Regions from separate parts of the Homo sapiens genome. Here region 1 is linked to region 2. Evidence: fine-mapped expression QTL. A gene starts in region 2. The other region holds a variant in brackets. All regions are shown on one strand. Distances are from middle to middle.

The links. PIP is the estimated chance that this variant, and not a neighbour inherited with it, causes the effect. A credible set is the group of variants that fine-mapping cannot tell apart.
Region 1: its variant is the best candidate, but not a certain one, in a credible set for the expression of PRTFDC1 in whole blood (TOPMed, PIP 0.73).

What each region holds. Positions count from the first base shown.
Region 1 is chr10:24,892,282-24,897,656 of GRCh38, reverse strand. All of the region lies in intron 3 of PRTFDC1 (phosphoribosyl transferase domain containing 1), which reads left to right. Among named protein-coding and RNA genes, the nearest start is that of PRTFDC1, 58 kb to the left of the region's middle. The variant G/A (reference allele first, on the strand shown) is at 2,741.
Region 2 is chr10:24,949,235-24,954,609 of GRCh38, reverse strand. PRTFDC1 (phosphoribosyl transferase domain containing 1) reads left to right here and starts at 2,004. Exons shown (of 9, transcript NM_020200.7): 1 at 2,004-2,082. The coding sequence starts at 2,035. It also overlaps a transcript of THNSL1 not described here. RefSeq lists a silencer at 1,654-1,843.

The DNA of each region.
Region 1 (5,375 bases), 57 kb after region 2:
TTGCACTTCTTGGGAAAAACAGTTATGCTTACAAAGAAGCCCCGGATTTCCATCAAGTTGTGGAGTGTCATGCTGGGGACACTCTTATCACTCCCCTGAAGGCCTCAATGGCTGACTCACTCTATCAAAATGCTAACAGGGTTTCCTGCCATCAAAGGGTTTTGCCAAAACATCACATTGCCTCATTTTTTATCCTAAATACCACAACCTTCTTAATTCTGAGAGGAGGGGAAGAGAAGCCATCAGTGAACATCCTAAAAGAGGACAGCAGGTAGTAGGAGTACCTTTTTATTTTGTTTGGTTTTTGTTAAATTTAGACTTAGGGATAGGGATAGACTTAGAGATAGACTTAGGAATAGGAATGCCTTTTAACTGACTCCAAGGAGGGGACTTCTACTGGTTCAGAATGCTCTCCATCTGGGGGATGGTTCATTTATTTATTTATTTTTTTGAAACAGATTCTTGCTCTGTCAGGCTGGAGTATAGTGGCTTCATAATTGCTCACTGCAGCCTCAAACTCCTGGGCTCAAGCGATCCTCCCACCTCAGCCTCCTGAGTGGCAGGGACTACAGGCACATGCCACCATGCCCAGCAAATTTTTGTATTTTTTGTAGAGATGGGTTTTTGCCATGTTTCCCAGGCTAGTCTTGAACTCCTGGACTTAAGCAATTCTCCCACCTCAGTCTTCTGAGTAACTGGGACCACGGACTCGCACCACCACACCTGATTAATTTTTAAATTGTTTGTAGAAACAGGGTCTTGCTATGTTGTCCAGGCTGGTCTTAAACTCCTGGCCTTAAGGGATCCTCCCTCCTTGGCCTCCCAAAGTTCTAGGATTACAGGCGAAAGGTACACACGGCCTTTTCAACTTTTTAGAAGAACACGCTAAGTGGTATGCACTTTTGTTTGGTATTGGAAAGACCTTGAATTTCACAGAGGACATTTCAGGATTTTTCCAGAGTGTTTAGTGCTTGACCACCCAGTGCTCCTCACAACAGACCGAGTGACATACTTTCTGACTTTCCTCTGAAGTGCCTCCAAATAAGATGCATTTGCTTTCATCTTTTTCTCCCTTTCCATTAAGAAAAGACTAAAACTAGCATGGCACTGTCAGCAGTTGAGCTAGTGAACTCTGGGATTCTCATGAGGAGGCCCAGTGAAGAAATGGCCTTTCTTCCTAATTAAAGACTTGGGGAAGCACCCTCTAGAAGAGCAGTCCCCGACCTTTTTGTCACCGGGGACCAGTTTTGTGGAAGACAGCTTTTCCATGGACTAGGGAAGGGTTGGGGGATGGTTTCCAGATGAAACTCTTCCACCTCAGATCATCAGGCATTAGTTAGATTCTCGTAAGGAACATGCAACCTAGATCCCTCGCATGCACAGTTCGCCATAGGGTTGTGATCCTATGAGAATCTCATGCCCCCGCTGATCTGACAGGAGGCAGAGCTCAGGCAGTAATGCTGCCTCTCCTGCCACTCACCTCCTGCTGTGTGGCCCTGTTCCCAACGACCACAGACCAGTACCAATCCACAGCCTGGGGTTTGGGGACCCCTGTTCTAGAACACCTACTGTTGACTTCTGTGCCCTAGTTTCCCAGGACCAAAAGCCCTTCTCTGTACATGTGTGGTGGGAGCACCATGTGGCCAAAGAGTTAGCTGAGGCCAGAGATGTTTCACTGTGTCAGTGCAGTGAAAGAAAGAAGGGGGGGAACTAGTTTTATTTTGTTTTTAGATTAAATATGCGTTGACATAACTTCCAGGTGTCTGAAAATTATGTGAAAACATTTTTATATGGAAGGTCTGTACTCATATTATTGTTGTAATGGGTTAAAAATTGCATCAAGGGATATTGATTTCCATTTTTTAATCAGTCTCCCTCTCTAGATATATGGATAGAGAATGTGTGTATGCATGTGTATGTATTTACAGATATATATATATATATATATATATATATATATATATATATCCACCCCAGCTCTTGCCCTCCTAGGTTTTTAGGTTTTCTTTCTCTTCTGTTCCAGTGCTGTTCCTTTTCCCTAAGCAAGGCCGTTCATGCACCACCCCCCACATTCTCTAAGGCGTAGAAAACTACTAATAAAGTGAAGACTGGGCGTGGTGGCTCACACCTGTAATCTCAGCACTTTGGGAGGCCAAGGCAGGTGGATCACCTGAGGTCAGGAGTTCAAGACCAGCCTGAGCAACATGGAGAAACCCCATCTCTACTAAAAACACAAAACTAGCCAGGTGTGGTGGTGCATGCCTGTAACCTCAGCTACTCAGGAGGCTGAGGCAGGAGAATGTCTTGAACCCAGGGGGCAGAGGTTGCAGTGAGCCAAGATCATGCCATTGCACTCCAGCCTGGGCAACAAGAGCGACTCCATCTCAAAAAAAAAAAAAAAAAGAAAGTGGAGATTTCCAGAAGAAGGACAAATCCTACTCGGATATAAAAATAGAATGTTTTGCAGGATATAGCTTTCTAATTTAAATCTGGTACAAAGCACAACTTCCTCAGGCCTCAGTTTTCAGTTTATAACAAGACAAGGATTGCCTTTTCTCTAAGGTGGCATCCAGTTTTGTGATCTTAGGAGACATTGACTGGTACGACGTAGGCAAACCCCTCTCTGCTTCAAACCTGTCTGGGAAGCCAAGCCCAGGGTTTTCTTTCATGAACCACTCGGCTTCTCTGTCTCTCTTTGAGTTTAACCTGGTTTCCTTCTATCTCACCACCCACGGGTGGG[G/A]CCAGACAGTGGTGTGTGTCGCCACTACTTCCTGATGCCCACTCTGAGCCAGGCTGCATTTGGGGCTCAAAAGGGTTCATTTGCCCAAGGCATACACAATCCACAGGAGCGGAGCCTCGATTTGAACCCATGTTGTCAAACTCCAAAGCCACGATCTTAACCACTATCCTATGCTGTCTCCCAGGAGGAGGGTGGTTTTCAAACTTTTTTTCAGCACTGAAACATTTTAAGTGATGTCTTCCATAAAACCTCAAAAATGGAGCTGCCCTGGGGATCGCAGAGCAGGAACCTGGTTGTGAGCCACTTTGCCTCATCCACAAACCGAGATTGGCTCCCGGGTGCCTTCACAGAACTCTGAGCTGCATGAAGTGGAAAAAGAAACCACTCTTCTCCACTGACTACACATGACTGTGACAGACAAAACCCACCTTGCCTGTCCAGAGCCTGCTGGTGATGGTCAGTGGTCAGCATCCACAGAGGCCGAAGCCTAAGAGCATGACTCACAGCTCATGCAGCACTTCCCACGGCCAAAGGGCCAGCAGTGCCCTCCTATTTTCTTTTCTCTCTCTTTTTTTTTTTTTTTTTTTGAGATTGAGTCTAGCTCTGTCGCCAGTCTGGAGTTCAGCAGCATGATCTTGGCTCACTGCAACCTCTGGTTCCCAGGTTCAAGCGAGTCTCCTGCCTCAGTCTCCCGAGTAGCTGGGATTACAGGCACATGCTGCCACGCCCAGCTAATTTTTGTATTTTTTAGTAGAGACAGGGTTTCACCTTGTTGGCCAGGCTGGTCTCCATCTCCTGACCTCGTGGTCCCCCACCTCGGCCTCCCAAAGTGCTGGGATTACAGGCGTGAGCCACCGCGCCCGGCCAATGAAGTCCTATTTTCACACTTCCTTTGAGGACTACAGTAATGTTATCAGGAGACAAGCAGTTTCTGCACCTCCTCTGCCTTGACCCAAGTACATTCCAATAGACGTCATGAGGTGACAAACTGTGGGTGCCCATGTTGAGCACTGCTACCGCCAGCATTGCCAAGTTGATTTGTATGGATTTGTGTCATTTCCCTGAAGTTCAACATAATGCTCAAACAGGAGGGCTCTGCTGTGGGGCAGGCCTGGGTTCACATTCAGGCTCTGCCAATTACTGAGTGAGCTTGGACCAACGATTTAATTAAGATTCCATTTTCTCATCTAGAAAATGAGATCAAGTAAGTACGACCCTGCACAGTATCCATCACTATAAAGGTTAGACTAGCTATTATTATTACTATTATAAGCTAATGAAACATATTCTTCTAGTTACAAGAAAATGAAGCTGGGCACAGTGGCCCTCCTGTTGTTGCAGCACTGTAGGAGGCTAAGGCAGGAGGATCACTTGAGGCCAGGAGTTTGAGACCAGCCTGGGCAACCTATTGAGACCTGTCTCTACAAAACAAACCAACAAACAAAACAAAACAAAAAAACACTAACTGGTTGTGGTGGCACTCGCCTGTAGTCCCAGCTACTTGGGAGGCCTAAACAGAAGGATTGCTTGAGTGCAGGAGCTCAAGGCTGCAATGTGCTATGATTGCGTCACTGCACTCCTGCCCAGGCAACAGAACAAGACCCTGCCAAGAGAAAGAAAGAGAGAAAGAGAGAGAGAGAGAGAAAGAGAGAGAGAGAGAACAAAAGAATCAGTGTTTTCAGAAACTTTCTGACTATACATGCCTATCTAATTATTAAGAGATGGACTCATGAAAATTTTTTCAAGTTTGGATACCTTCCTCTTAAATTGTGTTTGAATTTCAAGTGAGTTTTCATTCTCAAATATATAACATTATGTAACATAGGATGTGCTACTTCTATTTTTCTTTCAGTCAGGTGTGCTATTACAAAGACTGATACTGTATGAGCAAAATTTGGGTGGATTGTCTTATCTACGGATAGCTAGATCCCAGGGTTTTAAGAGATCTTAGAAACTCTTTCTCCCCATACTCCTCAGCCAAATATAAACTGGAGTGATAAAAATCAAACATTTTATGTGGCGGGTTTAAAAATCACTCGTGTATCCTTAATATGTACCCATGCTTGCCAGTGGTACCAACACTGGCTTTTAGGTCTTTAATGCCCCAGAAATAAGAATCTAAAATGCCAGTTTTCTACTGAAGAATACTGACTTCATTGCCACTTGCCTTGTGAAATACCCCAGTCTCTTTCTGCTTGTGGACCAGTGGATTTATCATACGCACAATTTGTTACTAAATTTGAATTGTTGAGTTAGGAGTGCTTGAGAAATATGTGACTGCAGACCAGGACTGTGTCACCTACTTGGCCTCGGTGTCATTTTCCCGTAAGAATCAGGAAAAGATTATTTTTTCTGTTTCTATGAAGAATGTCACTCGTATACGAATGGTCAATAGGTACATGAAAAAATGCCCAATGTCATCAATCTTCAGGGAAATGCAAATCAAAACCAGATGGGATACCACTTCACACCCGCTAGAAGGGCTATTATGAAAAAGACAAAAAAAAAATCACAAATGCTGATGAGGATGGAGAGAAGGGAGACCCTTATACACTGTTTTTGGGAATGTAGCATAGCTACTATGGCGAACAGTATGGGGGTTCCTCAAAAAATTAAAAATACAACTACTAGGTCA
Region 2 (5,375 bases):
TTACATTTTTCACTGTGAACTTGTTGGATTTTACGTTTAAACTAATAGCCTTTCTAAGGGAAGAAGATTTATCTACCATTTCCCTTACATCTTCCGCAGTGTCTAGGCTGGAACCAAAGTTGATGCTTTTTGACTTCTGTATGGCAACTACTCCTGTGACATATTTTGAAGTTCCTGGTACCCCCCAATCTGGCCCTGCACCCACACTGAGCCTCATGGCTAAGTTTTGATATCCAAGCAGTAAGATGGTCTAGTGGAATCCCCTAAAGCATGGGTCATGAGCCACCCACATCACACCCATCTGGTGTCTCTCAGCAGGTACAGGATTCTAGGTGCTTCCACAGATCTTCCCCACCCAGTGAAGCTGCATTAACCAGCTCCCCAGGAGAGTCTTGTGAACTCTAAAGTTTGATCATCATCCTAATGATAGCACTTTTCTGCTCCTGGAAATTTTAATGATGTTGCTTGTGAATATGGTTCCTGGGCCTGGTCTTTGAAAATGAAAATAAAAGATGGTGCTTGACTTTGGGGAAAAGAAGTGAGATGCAGACTACAAAAATGGCTCAAAACAACGCCCTCTCACAATTACTAGGAGAAAATGTTTACCCGTGTGCTGAGAAACAACACCCCCCATTTCTGTAAGGCAGTTGCCAAGCAGATGCCTGATTTCAGGGATCTCTGGAGCTGCACCCTCCAAGGCGCTGGCGCTTAGAAACGACATGAAGAGCCAGCCCTGCTGAGCAGGACCAGGGCGCCAAGTCTGAATGACTAATATTTTTCCAACCTAGAACGTCATTAACCGATTGATAACTATTTCCCCTTTAAACTAGGCAAAATCAGCATTCCTCTCCCCTCTGTGTGCCAGAATTCGAAGATGAACAAAAGACGCCTGCATCAGGAAAACTGTGTTAAGTTCTCTTGGATTCAGGGCTTCGACCCGAATTGGGCTGAGTGAATGAAGACGCTGGTGAGATGTCAGGGACCTGGGGAATGAAGACACACCCAGAAAAAGCAGGAACCTACAGGAGTGGACAAAGAACCGGAGCATAGGCATGTGAGAGGGGTTGAAATGAACAACAGACTCATACAAGAAGGATTTCTAATCAGAAAAGAGCGATTGCTTTAGTAAAGCTGCAACCTGGAACAATTACAATCTGACCAGATGTTCTTGCAAAACTGGTAAAGCAGAGAATGTGTAAAAATCTCTCCCCCTCCTCCCCTGAATGCAGTTGACGAAAGGCCGAAAGGCTGGATCCTCAAAGCCCAGATCTGATCACTGCAGATCCGGGCCACCCTAAAAGCAATCGGGTGTAATCTTTCCAGCTCCAGGCCCTGGGATGAGGGAGGTGGGGGAAGGTGGAGAAAGGTGGAGGAAGATGGAGGGAGGTGAGGGGAGGTGGAGGGAGGTGAGGGGAGGTGGAGGGAGATGAGCGGAGGTGGAGAGAGGTGGGTGGCGGCTCCAAGGTTTGAAAACACATCCAGGACACTTCCCATCCTCCAAGAGCACGCTGGCTCACAGGCTCTTTCACGCTTCTGCTTGGGACAATCGCGTGCATGAAATCTGGCAGGGAGGAGTCAAGGAGATTGTTAGCCCGAGGGCTGGGACGGTGGATCTGGGAATCAGGGGCCTGGGGGACACGTTCTCTTCCTGCCGCGGGCTTCCTGCTCCAGAGTCCCCGCGGGGCTTGGCGGCGGGGCCGGGGGCTGCACGCGACCATCCGGCAGGGGGCGGCGGCGACAGCGGCGGCCGCAAGGGACGCGTCCGGGGCCCGCGCTCAGGGGGAGCGGTAGCGGCTTGGCAGCTGCTCCCCGCGCCCCCGCGGCCTAGCCAGGGGAGGGGGCGCAGCGCCGGGGCCATGGATCCGCGTCAGGCCGCTGCTTCCCGCCGGCGGGCCCGGGGCGGGGCGGACCCGTCCCCGTCCCCGTCCCCGTCCCCGTCCCCGTCCCCATCCCCACGTCCCATCCCCCACGCAGCCTTCGCCCTCCCTGCTCCTTCCCGCGCCGTCTTCCCTTCCCGCGTTCCCCGGGAGAAACATGGCCGGGAGCAGCGAGGAGGCGCCAGACTACGGGCGAGGCGTCGTGGTAAATGCAAACTCCCTATTTTGGGGCTCGGCCCGCTCCCCTCCCTCCCTGGCACCCTGCTTGTAGATTAAATGCTTGCCGTGCGTCGGGGGAGAGAGAGGGCCACCGCTTTGTTCTCCCTCCCGGCGGGGATCGCTTCCATCCTCGGACCCGGGCCTCCTCTCCCCGCCCCCAATCTGACGAAACTCTGAGTCCCGTCCCTTCACCCCGAGTTCCCAGCGTCCCCCCGTGTCCTCCGGCCGGTAGCTCGCTCCTGCAGCGTCCCGCCGGCGCCCAGCCGTCCCCATCCCCGCGAGCCACGGGGAGTCGCTTCTGCGAGCCCGGCAGGGCCCCAGAGACCCCCGCGTGCTGCTCTGGAGGCCTCCTTCTTCCTGGGTCTCCTCTTGACTCCTCCAGGGCGGGCTTCAAGTTTTGTTTTTAAAAAGCACACTGAGGGGTTTTGAAGGCAGCTAGGAAATAAAGTAGCTCAAGTGGACAGAGCTTGAGATTTGAAGCCTTTGGTACCCAGGTTGGGGGCTCTCTGGCAGTGGAGGCCTCTGCAGGAGCTCTAGGACACGCTGGCGGCTCCTGAGTGACCTATGGCTTGTCTGTAAAAGGGAGCAACAGCAAGCTGGGCTCTGGAGCCAATTGGGAGGATGCATGTAAAATATCTAGCAGTGTGTCCGGATGGGAGGGTGTGGGGTGCTGGTTTCCCAGAACTGAGCCTCATTAACCCTGAGAATCCTGACGGTGTCAGCCAGAGGGTACCCATCTCTCAGTGTGCTAGGATCCAACCCGTTCTTGACCTTGTGGCCACGTCCTCCCTGCTCCCTGAGAAGTGGTTTTCCTAGAAGGTGGTGGTTATAACTTGTGTCAGGTTCAGTGTGAAACTCAATGGTGGTGAGGATGGTGGGTGGGGCTAACTTGCCATCTCTTTCCAGGGATCAGCTTGTCATTCACAGATAATCTGTTTATGAATATGAATGGCCTGAACTAAAGTAAGTGGGCTGGGGAGGGAAACGTGTCACATTCAGACAGAAGGGTCAGGTTGAAATGTGGGGCTCAGTGCTTAATTTAACAGCAGGACCTTTCCTTCTGAAAGGATGAGGAGTTGATTTATTCATTCCACACGTTTATTGTCCTGCTGGGTTGTAGGAGGTGCTGTAGGCTCTGGGGTGCAAAAGACAAAGGCCTTGTCTTCATGAGCTTGCGTTCTAGAGAAGACATAGGCAAGCAGTGTGTAAACAAATAGAGAAAATTTCAAATAGAGATATGTGCAATAGGAGGAGGGTAACAGGATAGAGGGTAATTGGAGGAGAAGGGGGGAGTGATGCTTTTGCTCAGGTGGTCAGGGCAGCCTCTCTGCGGTGACCTTTGAGCCAAGATCTGAAGGGTACACAGGAGTAGCCATGTGGACTGCAGGCAGAGACCCGCATACCAAATGCAAAAGAATCATTGTATCCGATTTATGCTTTTACAAAAACCATTCCAGTTGCCCCAGGAGGAGGGGCAAGCCTAGCGGTGTGATGGATGGGAGGGGGACTAAAACGCAAAAAGGGCAATCATTAAGTTCATTCTGGACAAATTGAGTTTGTAGTGCCTGTAAGGCCCACAGGTTGGCCTGCACTGTAGGCAATTTGAAATTCACATTTGGAATTCTGGAGAGTGATTGGAGAGATTTGGAAGTCATCAGCAAAAAGAATAATATGTAATGTTCGGGAGTGCTCAGTGAATATGGAAAAAACAATTAAAGCAACTGTTAAGGATGGAAGCCTGGAAAGTCCCAAATATAAGAGGCTGCCTGTGGGGGAGAAGCTGGTTGAAGGAACCGAGAAAGAACTTTGAAGGGTGGGAGGGCAGGCAGCATGGTGGGTGCCTTGGGAATAGAGCATTGTTGAGCAGGAGGGGCGGGGTCAAGAGGTCATCAGAAGTGTCAGATGTTACAGGGACAGCAAGTCGGATACCAAGATGGAAAACAGCCACTGTATTTAACAATTACAAAGCCATTAGTAGGGAGAATCTTTTAAACAACCACTGCATTGGTAGAATGGTTAAAATATAGTACAAGTTGAGCATCCCTAATCCAAAAATCCAAAATCCGAAATGCTCCAAAATCTGAAACTTTCTGAGCACCAACATGATGCTGAAAGGAGATGCTTACTGGAGCATTTTGGATTTCGGATTTTCAGATTAGGGATGCTCAACCAGGAAGTATAATGCAAATATTCCAAAATCCAAAGGAAAAAAAATCTGAAATTGGAAACGCATCTGATCCCAAGCATTTTGGATAAGGGGTACTCAACTTGTACTACCGTAACATACTACATACTTTTAGAAAAGAATAAGGTGAATCTAGATGCACGGATAGAGTAGGTAAATTGTTGAAGTCTAAAAAACAAGTGAGAGAACACTGTAAATAGCCCAGTCTATTGGTGTCAACAGAGGTCCTCTTGGAAGCAAGGTAATTTTTTGAAAGATGCAAAGAGGTAGTGAGAGGGGTATCAAGAGAGTAGAGGGCCAGGTGAGGTGGCTCATACCTGTAATCCCACCACTTTGGGAGGCCGAGGTGGGTGGATCTCCTGAGGTCAGGAGTTCAATAGAATCCTGACCAACATCGTAAAACCTTGCTGCTACTAAAAATACAAAATTAGCTTGGCATGGTAGTGCATGCCTGTAATCACAGCTACTTGGGAGGCAGAAGCAGGAGAATTGCTTGAATCCGGAAGGTGGAGGTTGCAGCAATCCAAGATTGCACCATTGCACTCCAGGCAACAAGAGTGAAACTCCTTCTTAAAAAAAAAAAAAAAAATAAATAAATAAATAAATAAATAAACAAAAAAAATGAGTATAAACTGGACCAGCTGCCAAGGGGCTTGGTGCTTGCATGAGAGCCCACAAAGGTGGGAAATAATCCACATATAATGGAGATAGTCCCTACATTTACATCCTTTTCTCCAGTAGAACTTGGAATAATTAGATTAACCTCAAGTTGGATATAAGCAGGCAACTTCAGAGCGAATCGAAGCTGCTGGTAGAAGGCAGCTCATGGCATGTAAGGCAGGAGGGAAGGGAGAGCTGGAGAGGATGAGTTTACTGGGAGAATAGAAAGCTCTCAAGGATGGGATACAAAAAATCAAATTAGTACCAGTTTTAAAAAGGGGCAGGTGGCTGGGAGTGGTGGCTCACACCTGTAATCCCAGCACTTTGGGAGGCTGAGAGAGCAAATCACTTGAGCCCAGGAGTTCGAGACCAGCCTGGGCAGCCAACCCTCTCTCTACAAAAAATACAAAACTTAGCCAGGCATGGTGGTGCAT